Linked DNA regions of Homo sapiens: region 2 is linked to region 1. Evidence: fine-mapped expression QTL. Tissue or cell type: CD8 T cells. Region 1 holds a variant in brackets; the other region holds the start of a gene. All regions are shown on one strand. Distances are between the middles of the regions.

The links. PIP is the estimated chance that this variant, and not a neighbour inherited with it, causes the effect. A credible set is the group of variants that fine-mapping cannot tell apart.
Region 2: CCDC50 starts here. The variant in region 1 is the best candidate, but not a certain one, in a credible set for the expression of CCDC50 in CD8 T cells (Kasela 2017, PIP 0.73).

The regions. Positions count from the first base shown.
Region 1 is chr3:190,818,676-190,827,199 of GRCh38, reverse strand. No RefSeq gene overlaps it. Among named protein-coding and RNA genes, the nearest start is that of GMNC, 40 kb to the left of the region's middle. The variant G/A (reference allele first, on the strand shown) is at 4,051.
Region 2 is chr3:191,325,054-191,331,163 of GRCh38, reverse strand. CCDC50 (coiled-coil domain containing 50) reads right to left here and starts at 1,770. Exons shown (of 12, transcript NM_178335.3): 1 at 1,441-1,770. The coding sequence starts at 1,489. UTS2B (urotensin 2B) reads left to right here and starts at 638. Exons shown (of 9, transcript NM_198152.5): 1 at 638-750; 2 at 2,455-2,533. RefSeq lists enhancers at 1,001-1,601, 1,602-2,203 and silencers at 1,615-1,894, 1,995-2,074.

The DNA of each region.
Region 1 (8,524 bases):
TGACACTCAAATTACACTAGATTCTCATGTTTTTCTCTCCCACAAAACCTTGCACATTTTCTTAACAGCAATTCCTACATTATGTAGTGATCAATTTGTTTAATGTCTATCACTTTCACTAGAGTGTGAGTTCCTTGAGAGCAGGGAAGTTCTTGATATTATTCATCTTTCTCCCTCGGTCTCACGATAGTGATTAGAAAGAGTACTGTTCCACAACTATGTCTTAAAAGACTGTGGGGCATCTAACGTGTTCGTGTCAATGGACTTTCTTTCCATTAATATTCCTTGCACCATTCTGTCAGAGAAGAATTCAAGGAAAATCTGATATTTTAGAAGCAAACAAAAACCTCACCTTGTGCTCATAGAAAAGTTTGATATAGAATGGAAAAATGGGTTTAAAATACCAAGTTTTCACGGCAATCATAAAGGAAAAGTTAAAGTGTTTGAAATTAAACAAACTCCACCTTTCCTCACACATTACTTTTAATTGCAAAAATCGCAATTAATTTTGCACCAACCTGATCCTATGTAGCAGTCTTCCCAGTGCGATTTCAGCCCAAGCTGAGCTGTAACTAAACTTACTCACACATATGGCAGGCTGCTTCCTCTTTTGGTGTTGCTGGCAGAGACTTCAAAGATTTTAGAGACTTGTTCCATCAAGAGGACATTTGTGATTCTTTTTGTGAGGGTAAATTCTGATGGGGAAAGGTGAGAATGACATTTCAAAGCATGGTAGTACAATAGGAATGGTCAAGGATTTTTTAGTAGACGTCACTCTGGTTTTCAATGTAGGAAATATAAATATGGAAGTCTAGTGGCCTAGAGGATTACTCTCTCCTGTAAGGGATTTTGCATTCTTTTTATTTTTTCTTCTGAGTTGAGCTTCTCTGGATCTCTTTGGAATGTGCTGTTCATTTAAGCATGGATGCACTCAGCAGCAGTTTGTGGCCCGCTGGGCTGTTTTACTTCCCCAGCCAGGTTGTGCTTGCCAGCTTTTGTTGAGAAATAACAGGAGGTCATACACGATGTCAAGAAAATGTTGGCATGGTTAGAGAAACAAGTATTGTATTAGTTGCAATGAATTTAGACCTACTGATGGTAGGATTAAAGAAATCTGTGTCTGGCACTCTCTGCAGCTTGAAGCAGCTTACAATGAGCATAGCCTGGACACTAGAGAGGCTCAGCAAGCTGACTGGTACCTGGCCTTCTTGACCAAGAAGGATGTACCCAAAGCGTGTGGTAACTAAGTGAAGGTCTCCTAAGACACACGTAAGACCATAAGGTGGTACAGATAGAGGTGACGAAGAAACAAGGAAAAGAGAAGGAAGGAAGGAAGGAAGGAAGGAAGGAAGGAAGGAAGGAAGGGAGGAAGGATGGAAGGAAGGAAGGAGAAAGAGGAAAGAGGAGAGGAAAGGAAGGGAAAGTGGAAAAAAGAAAAGGAAAGGGGAAAAAAGGAAAGGAAGGAAGAGAAGTAGACAAAACTACATAAAATATCTATCTTTTGCAGTTACAAATTGAACTAAAATAGTAATAGCAACTCTGGATTGACTGTTTTACCATAGGTGAGTCATGGGTCCAAAAGCTTACCATATATTAATGAATGTAATTGCACAATCACACAATGAAGTCATCACTACTATACTGCCCTTTTACAGATGAGAAAGTAGGGCCCAGAGAGGCAAGTGAATTGCCCAAGAGTTCACAGTTAGGAAAGGGTGGATTCAATATATGAATTCAGAAAATCTGACTGTAGGATCCGCACTCTAACTTCTCTCCATAGGCTGAATCACCCAGACTCTTCTAGTAACCCACAAACATGACTTGATAGAAAAGGAAAGTGAATATGCGGAAAAGAAGATTGGAAATACAGAAGGGGAGAGCTGTAGTAGACCTCAGGAAGCAGCTAAGTTTAGAATGCTGGGACTGAAAGTATTTTTACACCCTATGCTTGCTTTGATGTGGAAAATTGATTTTTCGATTTTTTCCCTCATTATTGTAATGCCATATTTGATTCATATTTGATTCACTTTCTAATTTTTACTTTTAATGTTGCCTACCGCTCCAAGCCTCTTTTTCTGTTTTGTTTTGTTTTGTCTGTTTGTTTTTGACAGGGTCTTGCTCTGTCACAAAAGCTGGATTTCAGTGGCACAATCACAGTTCAGTACAGCCTCATCCTCTCTGGCTCAAGGGATTTCCTGAGTAGTTGAAACTCCAGGCATGTGCCACCACATTCTGCTATATACATTTTTTAGTTTTTTGTAGAGGCAGAGTCTCGCTATGTTATCCAGACTGGTCTTGAACACCTGGGCACAGCACTCCTTCTGCTTCGGCCTCCCAAAATGCTAGACTAACAGGCATGAGCCACCACATTTGGCCCTGTTTTTTTGTTACTGCTAATATGAAACATGCCTTAGGATTATATACTTCTAAGTCTGTTTGCTTTACCAAGCTTATTGAATATGTCAAACACCTATAGATTAAAAATATTACATAGATTCATAGATTACTCATAGATTAAAAATATTACCTGCACATGAATGATAGGGAAATATATAATGACATGATGGCATCTAAAGTTAAACTGGTACATTTATCATCACAGAAATCATCCATTTGATTTCATTTTTGTTTTTGCTTATTTTATATATATTCAAGCAGTATATATGACCCCACAGTATGTGGGTGACATCCTGTATGCTAAACCCTGATATACTAACAACGCAGCCTGAATTGGAAACCAATTACAGTAGAAAAGGATTATGTGAGAATATATCTCTGTCTGGTCAGATTCCCTCTTTAAAAAAGGGAAGACCATCATTACGCAGAAAGGAAGTGGGGATGAGAGAATACAGGTCTCCTAAATCCTAGGTGAGCGTCTTTTTATTCCACATGCACAGAAACTTAAGACATAACTTGTTGTCACAAAACCATAAAGAAAAGGGGAGAGCAACATGGAAAAAGGCAACAAAGGAGAAGTATATTTTTTCTTTTTCTGTTCGAAGGACAGTGTTGAATTTGGTTTCCTAATATTTTCTTGAGGAGTCTTGCTCCTCTAATTAGGCATACTGTCTACTATTTAATAGTTTTCTTTTTTTGTCATGTCCTTTACTGGTTCTCCTATCAGGATAACGCTAGCCTTGTAAAATGAGTTCAGAAGTTTCCTCTGCACTTCCATTTTGAGTTTGAGAAGAATCGGTATTCATTATTCATTATTCTTTAAGTTGGTGGGGGCGGGAATTCAGAAGTGAAGCAATCAGGTACTGGGCTTTTCTTTGATTGAAGACTATTGATTACTGATTCAATCTCCTTACTTATTATTGGCCTGTTCAGATTGTCTACCTCTTTGTGATTTTATCTTGGCAGGTTGCATTTATCTGGGGATTTATCCATTTCTTTTATGTTATTCAATTTGTTAGCATATAATTATTTATAATACAGTTGACCCTCAAACAACATGGGTTTGAACTGTGGGGATCCACTTATACATGGATCTTTAAAAAATAAATATTACACCAAGTGTGCCTGCCTTTCATTCCACCTCATCCATCTCTTCTGCCTCTGCCACCCCTGAGACAGGAAGATTAACCTCTTTTTTGCCTTCTCCTCCTCAGCCTACTCAACATGAAGACAAGAGGAAAATACCTCCATGATGACACACTTCCTCTTAATGAATAGTAAATATATTTTACCCTCCTTATGATTTTCTTAATAATATTTTCTTTTCTATAGCTTACTTTATTGTAAGAATACAATATATAATACATATAGCACATAAAATACATGCTGATCAACTGTTTACACTATTGGTAAGGTGCCTCATCAACAGTAGGCTATAGGCTATCAGTAGTTAAGTTTTTGGGATGCCAAAAGTTAAATATAGATTTTTGACTGTGCAGTGGATCGGTGCCCCCTATTCCCTATGTTTTTCAATAGGCAGTTGTAGACCTTTATGATCCTTTATAGTTCCTTCTCTTTTTTTTTAAGAGATGGGGTTTCACTGTGGTGCTCAAGCTAGAGTGCAGTGGCTACTCACAGGCTATTAGTGGACCC[G/A]CTACAATGCTAGACCTGCCATAGCATTTCCAGGATTGCCCCTTCACCAACTCAACTTAGCAACCTTGGGGTTCAGGTTCAGATCATAATTAGACCAACTGTAGTGGCAGCAGGCTTCAGTCTTGCCCCAGAACCAGGGAAGCTCTGGAGGATCTAGGAATACAGACTCCAGGCCTACCCTAGCAGACCAAATCAACACATTCACCCAAGTGTAACCAGGCTTCAGGCTCACCTACTTGCTAACCCAGGCTCCAGGCCAGCCAGCCCAAAGACTCCAGCAGGAATTCTGCTTAGTACCATATCAGATGGCCTGTCCAGAATCTCTGGGCTGGCTATCTCTGGACCTAATATTAATCAGCATGAAAGTTTTATCCTGTTGCATTTCTGACCTGGGTTGGCTCAACCATCCTTAAGCAACCTGGTGGTCCTCTGCTTTGTGAAATCACCATATTGATGCTAAACTTAGTGTGGACACCCAACCAGCATAGCATAATACAGCCCAGAACTCCTGGGCTCAAATGATCAACTATGTTTAAATTAAGATATGCATATTATTCTTATAGACATAATGCTGTTGCACACTTAATAGACTACAGTATAGTGTAAAAGTATTGTTATATGCACTGAAAAAACAAAAAAAAAGAACAGTGTGACTCACTTTATTACAATATTTGCTTTTATTGTGGTGGTCTGAAACTGAACCCACAATATTTTGTGGGTATACCTGTAGTGTCCTTTTCTTTCAGCTTGAATAACTCCCCTCAGCATTTCTTATAAAAAGGCCTGCTGTTGATACTCTCTACATCTTTGTCTTGGAACTTTTTCTCTCTTTTATTGCTGAAGAACAGTTTTGCCAAGTACAGTATTATTTGTTGGGAGTTTTTTCCTTCAGAATTTTGAGTGTTATCTCCCTTTCACCTAGCTTGTAAGATTTCTGCTGAGAATTCAGCTGTTAGTCATATTGGAATTCCCTTATATGAAATTTGCTTCATTCTCTTGCTGCTTTCAGAATACTCTTTGTCTAATTTTTGATAGTTTGACTATAACAGGACTTGGGGTGGTTTTGTTTAAACTAAATCTCACTTTGATTTATTTATGACTTTTATTTATTTTTATTGACTCATTGTACTGCCTAGGAGTCCTAGAAAAAAGTTAAACAGAGGTTGTGACATCTTCTATTTAAAAGACATCCTTTTCTTTTACTTGAATTTAGTGGGGAACATTTCTACATTTCACCATTACATATGATGCATGCACGATGTGAGTTTCATTTTGTTATGATGCTGTTTATTAGATTGAGGAAACTGCTTTCTATTTCTTATTTCTTGGTCATTTCTGCCATGAAAAGATGTGAATTTTGTTGAAATATTTTTCTGCACATCATGAGATAATTATGTTACTTTCTACTGCTCATTAAGTTGTGTTATATTGGCTAATTTTTAATGTTAAGTCAAACTTGTATTGCTCGGATAAAATCTACTTGATCATTGTGTATTGTCTCTTTCAGATATTGTTGAATTTGACCTGCTAATAATTTGTTGATTAATTTTATGTCTATGTTCATGAGGAGGATTGGTCTAATTTTTTTCTCGTTTTGTACTTAGTAGAGTTTCGATCTAGATTACTCCAACTTCATAAAGTAAGTCTAGACTTGTTCCCTCTTTCTTATCTTCTGAATGAGTTAGGTAAGACTAGTTTAATTCTTCCTAAATATTTTGTATAGCAACCAGTAAGGCTAAGCTTAAAATATATTAATAGAATTTTTAAAAACTCTGCATTTAATTTATTTAATAAATACAGAAATATTCAGATTTGATTCTTTTATTGGTCAGTATGCTAGGAAGAATTCTGAGATAGCCTTCAAGTTTCCTTCCTTCTAATGTGCATGCCTGGTATATTCTCCTTCAATGTGGGATGAACTTGTGTTATGAGTAGTCAAATTAAAAAATATATATTTGTTTATTTATTTTAGTAGAGATGGGGTTTCCCCATGTTGGCCATACGGTCTTGAATTCCTGACGTCAACTGATCCACCAGCCTCGGCTTCTCAAAGTGCTGGGATTATTAGCGTGAGCTGCCTTTTTCTTTTCTACTCATAACACCTTATTATGCCCAGTCCACTTTCAAAGAGAATATACCAGGACTTGTAAAATCCCATATGATGGCATTTTATCATATGATTATGTAATTAAGCAGATGACTGTGAGTTCATCAAAAGCAGGATTCTTGCAGATAGACCTGGCCTAATCAGAGAGCACTTAAAACAGGGATTCTGCCTCTTGTTGAAAAGAGAGATTCTCCTGTTGATTTAAAAAATGAAAATTTTCATGTTGTAGAGATTCAGGAAGTACCGAATGACCTCAAGGACCTAATATCCTCAATTCTACCAGAACTGGAAGAATTGGAAGAGGACTCTGAGCATCAGATAAGAACACCGGCTAGATAACACCTTGGTTTCCGCCTTGTGATACCATGAGCAGAGAACCTAGCTGCGGTATGCCTGGACTGGTGATCTACAGACATGTTAGACAATCTCATTCTAAGCCTCTGCACTTGTGGATATTTTTTAATGCAGAATTAGAAAACTAATAATGTCAGATTGGGTAAATTGTGTTTTTCAGAAAATTTGTTCATTGTTTCCAAGTTGTAAAATTTATACATGTAAACATGTTCATAAATTTTTATATTTTCGACGTCTATAAGATCTGTAGTTATGTCTTATTTTCATTTCTTTATTAGTAGTAAATATTTTTTCTTTTTTCCCCTTGAGCAGTCCCTCTAGATATTTATCAATATTATTAATATTTTCAAAAAATCTGCCTTTTTCCTTATTGATTGGTGTTCTTTTACTCTTTTTAAATTTTATTTTTTTAAATTATTTTATTTTGTTACCAGCAGGATCAAGCAGGTAAGTTTGCTCTTGTTTTTATATAACCAAGTTGCAACCTTATTTTATGACCTTAATACTTTTTACTTTCTAAGTATTTAATGCTATAAGTTTTCCTTTGACATTCTTTATGTGCACCTCATAAATATCGATGTGTTAAATTTTTATCATGGTTTGGTTTAAATTATTATTTCATTTATTTGTGTGTGTTTTTATTGTTGGTGGTGGTGAGTTGTTTTGTTGTTAAATTTCTAAGTATTGGGTGCTTTTATAGATATTTTGTTACTATTACTTCATAACTTAGTTCTGTTTTGATCAAAGAACATATTCTATATGATTTCAATCTTTTCAAATTCAGTAAGATTTGTTTTATGACCCAGTTTATCATCAATGTTGATAGATGCTGCATGTGCACTTTAAATAACTATATAAAAATCCCAGCTTCTGCTAAGGAAGTAAAGAGCTTAAAAGGGTATTACTCCTACACTCACAAGAACAGCAAAAAGTGGCCAATTTTCAAATTCCCAACTTTATTTAAACGCATCAGACAGTTCATGTGTTGGGACAAACAACTAACCAAAAATATAAGAAAAGGTAAGCAGCAACAGAGATCACCTGAGGCAGAATCTTCCTGGCCATAGTGAGAAAAATTTGGCTAAATTCGTTAACATAAATTTGCCAAAGGCTGAGTGTGAGGTAGCAAAACACAAAAAAAACCTGTGAAGAAATTTAATACTGACTCACAGGCTCTTGTTCACAGACCTAGGTGGGTGCTCAGCAAGAAAGATTGGAGTAGGGCAAGGAATATGAGCAATCAATCATTCCATACGATGCAGATATGGGGAAGGGTGGATGCAGATATGGGGAAGGGTGATTGCAGCTGTTGCATGGAAAGCACAAAGCCCACGTAGATTCTTCTCCTCTAAATCTCTTATAGAACAAAATACTTGCACCACTGATAGAAAGATAATATATTCTGTTAAGCTTAAGACATTGGTGGAAACTTGTTGTAGCTGGATAACGGCACAATAAATAAATCTATTTCTTAATCAGAGAAGGTCATAAATACTTAGTGAGGTCAAACTTATGATTTATAATGCAGTACAACCACTGAGAAGATAGAACCTCTAATAAGACCCAGGAACACAGTGCCTATCTAAAACTAAGGGAAATTAAAAACAGAGAATATTTTCAAACCTCCTCTGAACCAGGCTAATAAGAGTTGGATAACAAGTAACTGCTGTCTACTATTGAGGGAGGGAAACAGCATGAATGAAGGCATTCTCTGAAGTACAGGACCAAAAAAAAAAAAAAAGACAAAGCTCAGAGTAGAATAGATATTAAGAAAACCCTCTGGAAAACTCATCTCCATTCTAAATGAAAAGTAACACTAGAGGAATTTAAAGCCTGTACTGCACTAAGAGTAGCCATAACAACTGAAAAATCCAAAAGCAAATCTACTTCTCACTAGGTTGAGTAATCAAAAGCTGAAAAGGTGGAGAGCCATGCCCATTTCCAAGCACAAAAACAATTTAATTCAGTCTCTACTGCTCTGCAAAAGATGTCTAGCCTAAAAACAAAAATAAG
Region 2 (6,110 bases), 510 kb before region 1:
GAGACAAACCCAACACATACCCACACAAAAAACCCTCATATCCAAAAGTAAAGGATAACCAGACAATCTCTAAGATAAGAACTCTCAAAAGTATGGATCCGCCTTTCCTATCGCTCAGCCTCCTTAGTCTTGACAGCAGAGTGAAAACTGTTTTCTACAGGTGAAAGCCCTAAGTCTTCATCAAAGCCATACCAGGGACGGAAAGGTAGAAAAGTATTAACGCTAAAATCTCACGCCTAAGCTTTAACACCCTTCCGGAACAGTAAGACAGAACTAGGCCCATCAGAAATTCTACATAAAATCAGTGACCACTAGTCACTAGTCTCCTAGTGCTTGAAACTCTGAGAAAGCAATCAAGCAGTCCCTCATTTTCCTGAGATTTTTGGGCTGGCCTGAGCACACACAAGACCAACGGAGTCAAATTAAGTTGGCAATAAAACAAGCGGTTCCAAGAAAGCAAAAACTATTTTCAATTCCACATCTCCAAGACGCCTCAGGCTACAGTATTCAATCGATACAAATGACATTCACAACAGAAGCCGATTTTGCAAAGCCCTTGGAACTTAGGGGTCTGCGTCAGCACTCTGGAACGTCTATGCTTCCTAGGACCAAAGAATAAACAAAGATAACTCAAGGCATAAGGCGATCCAGCACCTAAGATCTCAGCAAAAAAAAGCTAGGTCCTGAGGCAGCTAGTGGAAAAACAAGAGAAGGGAAGTCAAAAGGCTACTTGCTGTCAGCTAAAGCCAGGTCAGTACTAATCTCTACTTTCCTGGACATTGGTACAAAAAGCAATGACAAGGCCATCAGTCCCCTGTTCCCCTCGCTCACTATTGTGTGTGTGTGTGTGTGTGTGTGTGTGTGTGTTTTGTTTGTAAGAAAATGCTTATAGTGGCTTCCCGCCCGCGCAGAACACAGCCAAGACTAAACTTTTAAACCTTGAGGAAGGTGGGAAAGTCAGCCAGCCAGACGCCGGCCTAGGAAAAGTAGGGAGAGAAGGAGGGAAAGAGTCATGTTTCAAAACAAAGGCTCCACACGGAACTGAATGTCAACCCCTCTCCACTTCCCAGCCTTCAAGCCAGCCAGGCTGGGCCTCGATTTTTTAGAAGCGGAGTAAGTCAGATTCACCCGGCTCTCAGCGTCCACTGAGGCTTTGCGATGCACGAGAACACGGGCACAGCCACCTACTTGCTGGGGCTGCTGCTAGCCCCCCCCCCCCCCAACCACCCCCTTGAGAAAAAACGGGCTTGGAACGTCGGAGACTTGCCCAACGTCCCACACTAGAACCTGAATTCAATTCCTTTCACGTCCGGGCAAGGCCAACGCAGGGCGGGCACCGGGCGAGGGCCGCGGGAGCCGAAATGGCAACGCCCCTGACCTGAGAGAACCTCGGGCTGGGAGAGGGGAGGGTCCCGCGCGCTCTCCCTCCGGGGCCCTTACCTTCCTTGACTCCAGGCAGCTTGGACTGGTCGATGCTGACTTCAGCCATACCGGGCCAGGGTCCCGGTTGCCCCTTTAACGCGGGCTTCCCGGTCACCGCCGGCGCCGAGCGGGGCCCCGAGCGCAGCAGCAGCGCCGGACGCGGCGCAAAGTCCGGCCGGCAGGGCTCGCAGGCCGGAGAACGGAGCGGGTCGGGCGGGCAGGGGCTGGTGACCAAAGCAGCGGGAGACGGTCCCCGAGGCACCAAGCTGGCGGCCCAGCTGCCCCGCCGCGGCCACCTGCTCCGCGTCCCCGGCCCCAATCGATACCAAATATCCGGAGCCCGGAAATGGACCGGGGCCGTCCAGTACGGAGGGAGAGAGGAGACAGAAAGGCGGGCGGGCCGGCTGGGGGAGGGGGAGCTGCAGGTCTGTAACCGCAATTGCGAGTGGCTGGCGAGCGAAGATCAGCGCCCGCTGCCGCCTCGCTGTTGTCTCCTTTGTGCTCAGTGACGCGCCGCCTGAGGCTGGGGCCCCGCTGTGCTCCCGCCCCCGGGCCCTGCCCCCCTCCTACGGGAGGGTCGCGTCTTTAGGTGGGGGCCTTGTATCCTAAAGGCCTCAACAAAAAGGCCACACGGGTCACCTAAAACATAGTCTTTCCCGTGAGCGGTGTAGTCAGCATTCTGTGGTCTGGTTCTGGGATTGAGATTAACACAGGATGTTTACTGCATGCTTGCCTCTCTCTCATACACTCTTTTTGCACCCGGAATTAGAGGAGAGATGGTAGATGGCCATAAAAACCCCAAATACAACGTACAGAATGAAGAGCAGCTGATAAAATTCTGGGCCAGTTTGGAGTAGAGTGTGTACACAATCAGCTGGGAGAACTGAGTCATTCATTCATCAAAATCGCATGAATGTGTCTACCAAGTGTGATGTTAGGTACTGTGGGTGATAACGAGGCGTCAGACTTATCTCTGTTATAGCGCTGCACACATTGGATTGTAATTGTGACATTTCTATCTCTCTAAAATAGACAACCTCTCCTGTTTCATCTCCTGGCAACAGAATGCATCCTCCTTTTGGGAAACTGCCTCTTTCCCCACTCCTCAGAGGTGAGCTTCTCTCCCAAACGTGTGCCATGTCTGAACCTCGAGACTACCCCATCACTCTTCCCCCTTCCTCCACCGACATGGGTTCATCGAAGGGTGGCTGGGTGACCAAGACAGGTCAAACAGAATACTTTCCTGGGTACATAAAGAGTTACATATTCTGTTTCTTGTGGAAAAGATCTGCCTCTAGGAGATGATGAGGCCAAACTGAAGACAGAAGCAAAGAGAAGAGAAAGGGAGATGAAGAGGGCATGTTCTGATGTTACCACAGTAGCAAAGCAGGATATCCCCAGAGCAGCTGGCATTTCAGCAACTCCTGGATTCTGGGATCTACAACCCGCAAACTCTCAACTTATCCTCAGTTTTGCTTAAGCTAGTAATAGTTGATTTTCTGTCACTCACAGCTCAGAGTCCCAGTATGAGAGGCCACGTAGGGGAGGTTTTATTTGAACTTGACATTGAAAAGTAGGTGGATTTTAGGCTAGCAAAAATTTAGAAGACTTTCAAGGCCAGAGGGTAGCAAAGTATAGCCCACAGGCCAAATCTACGCCACTGAATTTGAATGACTGTTTTTTATATGTTCAAATAATTACATTTCAAATCACTACATAAATAGGACATAATATTTTCGACCTTGCCTCTTAAGCCTCAAAGTCTAAAATATGCTTTACAGGAAAAGTTTACCCACCCCAGTGCTAGGCAGAGATAACACTCAGCAGGTTAAATGTGGGAATAAGAAGGAAGTGGTATTAGAAAGGTAGATTTATGGGAATTTTTTAATTGTCCTGTAATCTAGTAATTTTTTTTAACTTCCTGTGGTCTAGAGAATATTTATAACAGCAGTATTTTCTGTTTCCCTCCCCAAATCTATCGTTTCTACTTCTCTACCAAGCCGTGCCTTTGGATGCCTACAGATAAATCACTAGGCCCCTTTGACCTGTGGCTTCCTGTTGTGATTGACCAATGGGAAGCACTGGCAGAAAATCAAAAGAAGGGAGGAGAGAAATATCAGAGTATTCTTCTTTCCTTTAACCCAAAATTTTGGCCACAGTCCTGTCCCTCTATGACTACAGGGCCTGTGTAGAGGCCTCTTTTCCATGGCCTCAGCTCTCATGGGTCTCTAATAAAACAATTTGTTTCCAGTGTCCCTTCAGGCCTAGAGTGTGATGGCTTCCCCTAGTTCCTTTTGGCTCACTGCAACTTCTGCCTCCCAGGTTCCAGTGATTCTCGTGCCTCAGCCTCCCGAGTAGCTGGGATTACAGGTGTGCACCACAACGCCTGGCTAATCTTTTGTATTTTTAGTAGAGGCAGGGTTTTGGCATGTTGGCCAGGCTGGTCTGGAACTCCTGGCCTCAAGTGATCCGCCCACCTCGGCCTCCCAAAGTGCTGGGATTACAGGCACGAGCCACCACGCCCGGCCTCCCCTAGTTCTCTTAACCCAGTTAATACCTCTGAAATTGTCTCTTCATTACATTCTTTTCAGTAAAATCACTTACAGTGCACCTCCTGTTTCCTACCTAGACTGTGACTGTTACAGTAAGATATGCCAAAAGTAAGATATGCTTAAAATATGATGTGCTTACAGTAAGATATGCATAAAAATATCCACATTTCTGGCCTAGAGAAGAAATGGAAACATATATAATAGCCACAACTATTGTTTAGAGAATCGGCTGCTTTCAGCAGAAAAAGTAATGAAAACCAGGAGCCCTTTTCAGGTACTAGAGCAGATGACCTGGAAATCCACCCCATAGTTGGGCTTTCCTTCTCCTACTCCACACCTGTTCTGTATAGGTCCCCAAGCTGAGCAAACAATTAGAGCTCAGCATTACAGAGTAGGCAACTTCTAGCAAAGGACTGACAGTAACACGGGGAAGAGCTAGTATCTTTTGAGTATTTATAGGGAATGAACATATGGTGAATTTCTGTAACAAGTTTACATCTTTTGGTGTCCTGAAATGTCCATTTTGCAATAAAAGAGAAAGCATAAGGCTTCTCAGGATGGATACAGATCCCTAATTTGGGGCAGATGCCAAACAAGTAATTCAGCATCAAATCACAACTTGAATGCCATAGAGAGAAATAAGGATTTTATTTATAAGGCAATATGGAGGCATCAATTGATTTTTTTTTCTAGGTGGATATTACATGATACATTTTCTACTTTTATAAAGTGAATTTGGTAACAATAAAATGCTTGGATTGGAGTAGGGAGACTTTGGTCATAAGAAATGAAAACTCCAGTTTGAAAACTACCAAATTCCACAAAAGCATCCCCCAGTTAGAGCTTACCTTACTAGAAGGTAAGCTCTGTGAGGGCAGGGGTTTATCTGTTTGATTCCCTAATATCCGCGTATCTAGAAAAGTGCTTGGCACATAATAGGCACTCAATAAATATTTGTTGCATAAATAAATAAATATAGTTATCCAATTTTATTATCAGTAAGAATCACAAATTAAAAGTAAGTTAAAAAAACAATATAGGCAAATGAATAAATTACACTGGACCTTGGCAAAACAGGAAAGGGGACCCACAGAACTATACTTCTGGAAAGAATTATCTGTCTCCTTGGCCCCCAGTGCTTCCTAGCTCATCAGCATAATATACCTAAGAGAACAGTTCCAAAAATGAGGATGCAATTAGAACTGTTATTCACTTTCACCAAGAAGACTGTATGAATATTCTAAGGTTGCCATAACAAAATACCACAGACTGAATGGCTTAAATAACAGAAATTATTATATATGTTTTTCACAGTTCTGGAGGCTAGAAGTCCAAGAGCAAGGTGTCAGAACATTTGGTTTCTTCTGAAATCCCTCTTTTTAGTTTGCAGATTGGATTAGGGCTAACCCAAATGTCTTCCTTAAAGACCCTGTCTGCAGTGCAGTCCCTCTGAATTACTGGAGGCTAGGGCTTCAACATGTGAATCTTAGGGACAGATAATTCAGCCCATAGTAGAGACTATTAGGACAATAATCCAACCGTACAGTTTAGGCCTCTTTACTCCAGGCCTTGAAGCATTTTTGTCTGGACTCTCATAACATATGTAAGTTCCCCAACCCTATTCATGCTCTCAACTTTCCTCAGTTGCTCAAGTCCCCTCACCCTATGGAATTCACTATCAGTTACTCACAAAATTCCCCATATCTCCTTTGTAACTATTCCCTTTCCCTTCTTTTCCTACTGGAACTCAGGGGTCACCTGGGGACATTGCTCTTCCAAGAGCCCTCTAAATTAGAGGCTGTTTCTTCTAACATACCCTAGACCCCATTGGACCTGGAGGTGCCATGGTTTTTATCTTATTGCCTTTTTTAGAACATATGTCTTTCCTATTTTTAAATATTTTCAACTTCTTTAAAGCTCATATCCTCAAATTCTGTCACCTACTACATACCCTTATTGCAATTATCTGTACACTTCTGGGTAACTTCTTACTCCTTACAGATGAGACCTTTTTTTCTCACTCTCTGTCATCACAGAACACTTGATGATTTCAGTGTATACATAAACATACAGAGTCATTCCTTCTGGTAACCTGATCTCTCTTTCCTTGACTTCCTTATTAATATTATTTTTTTT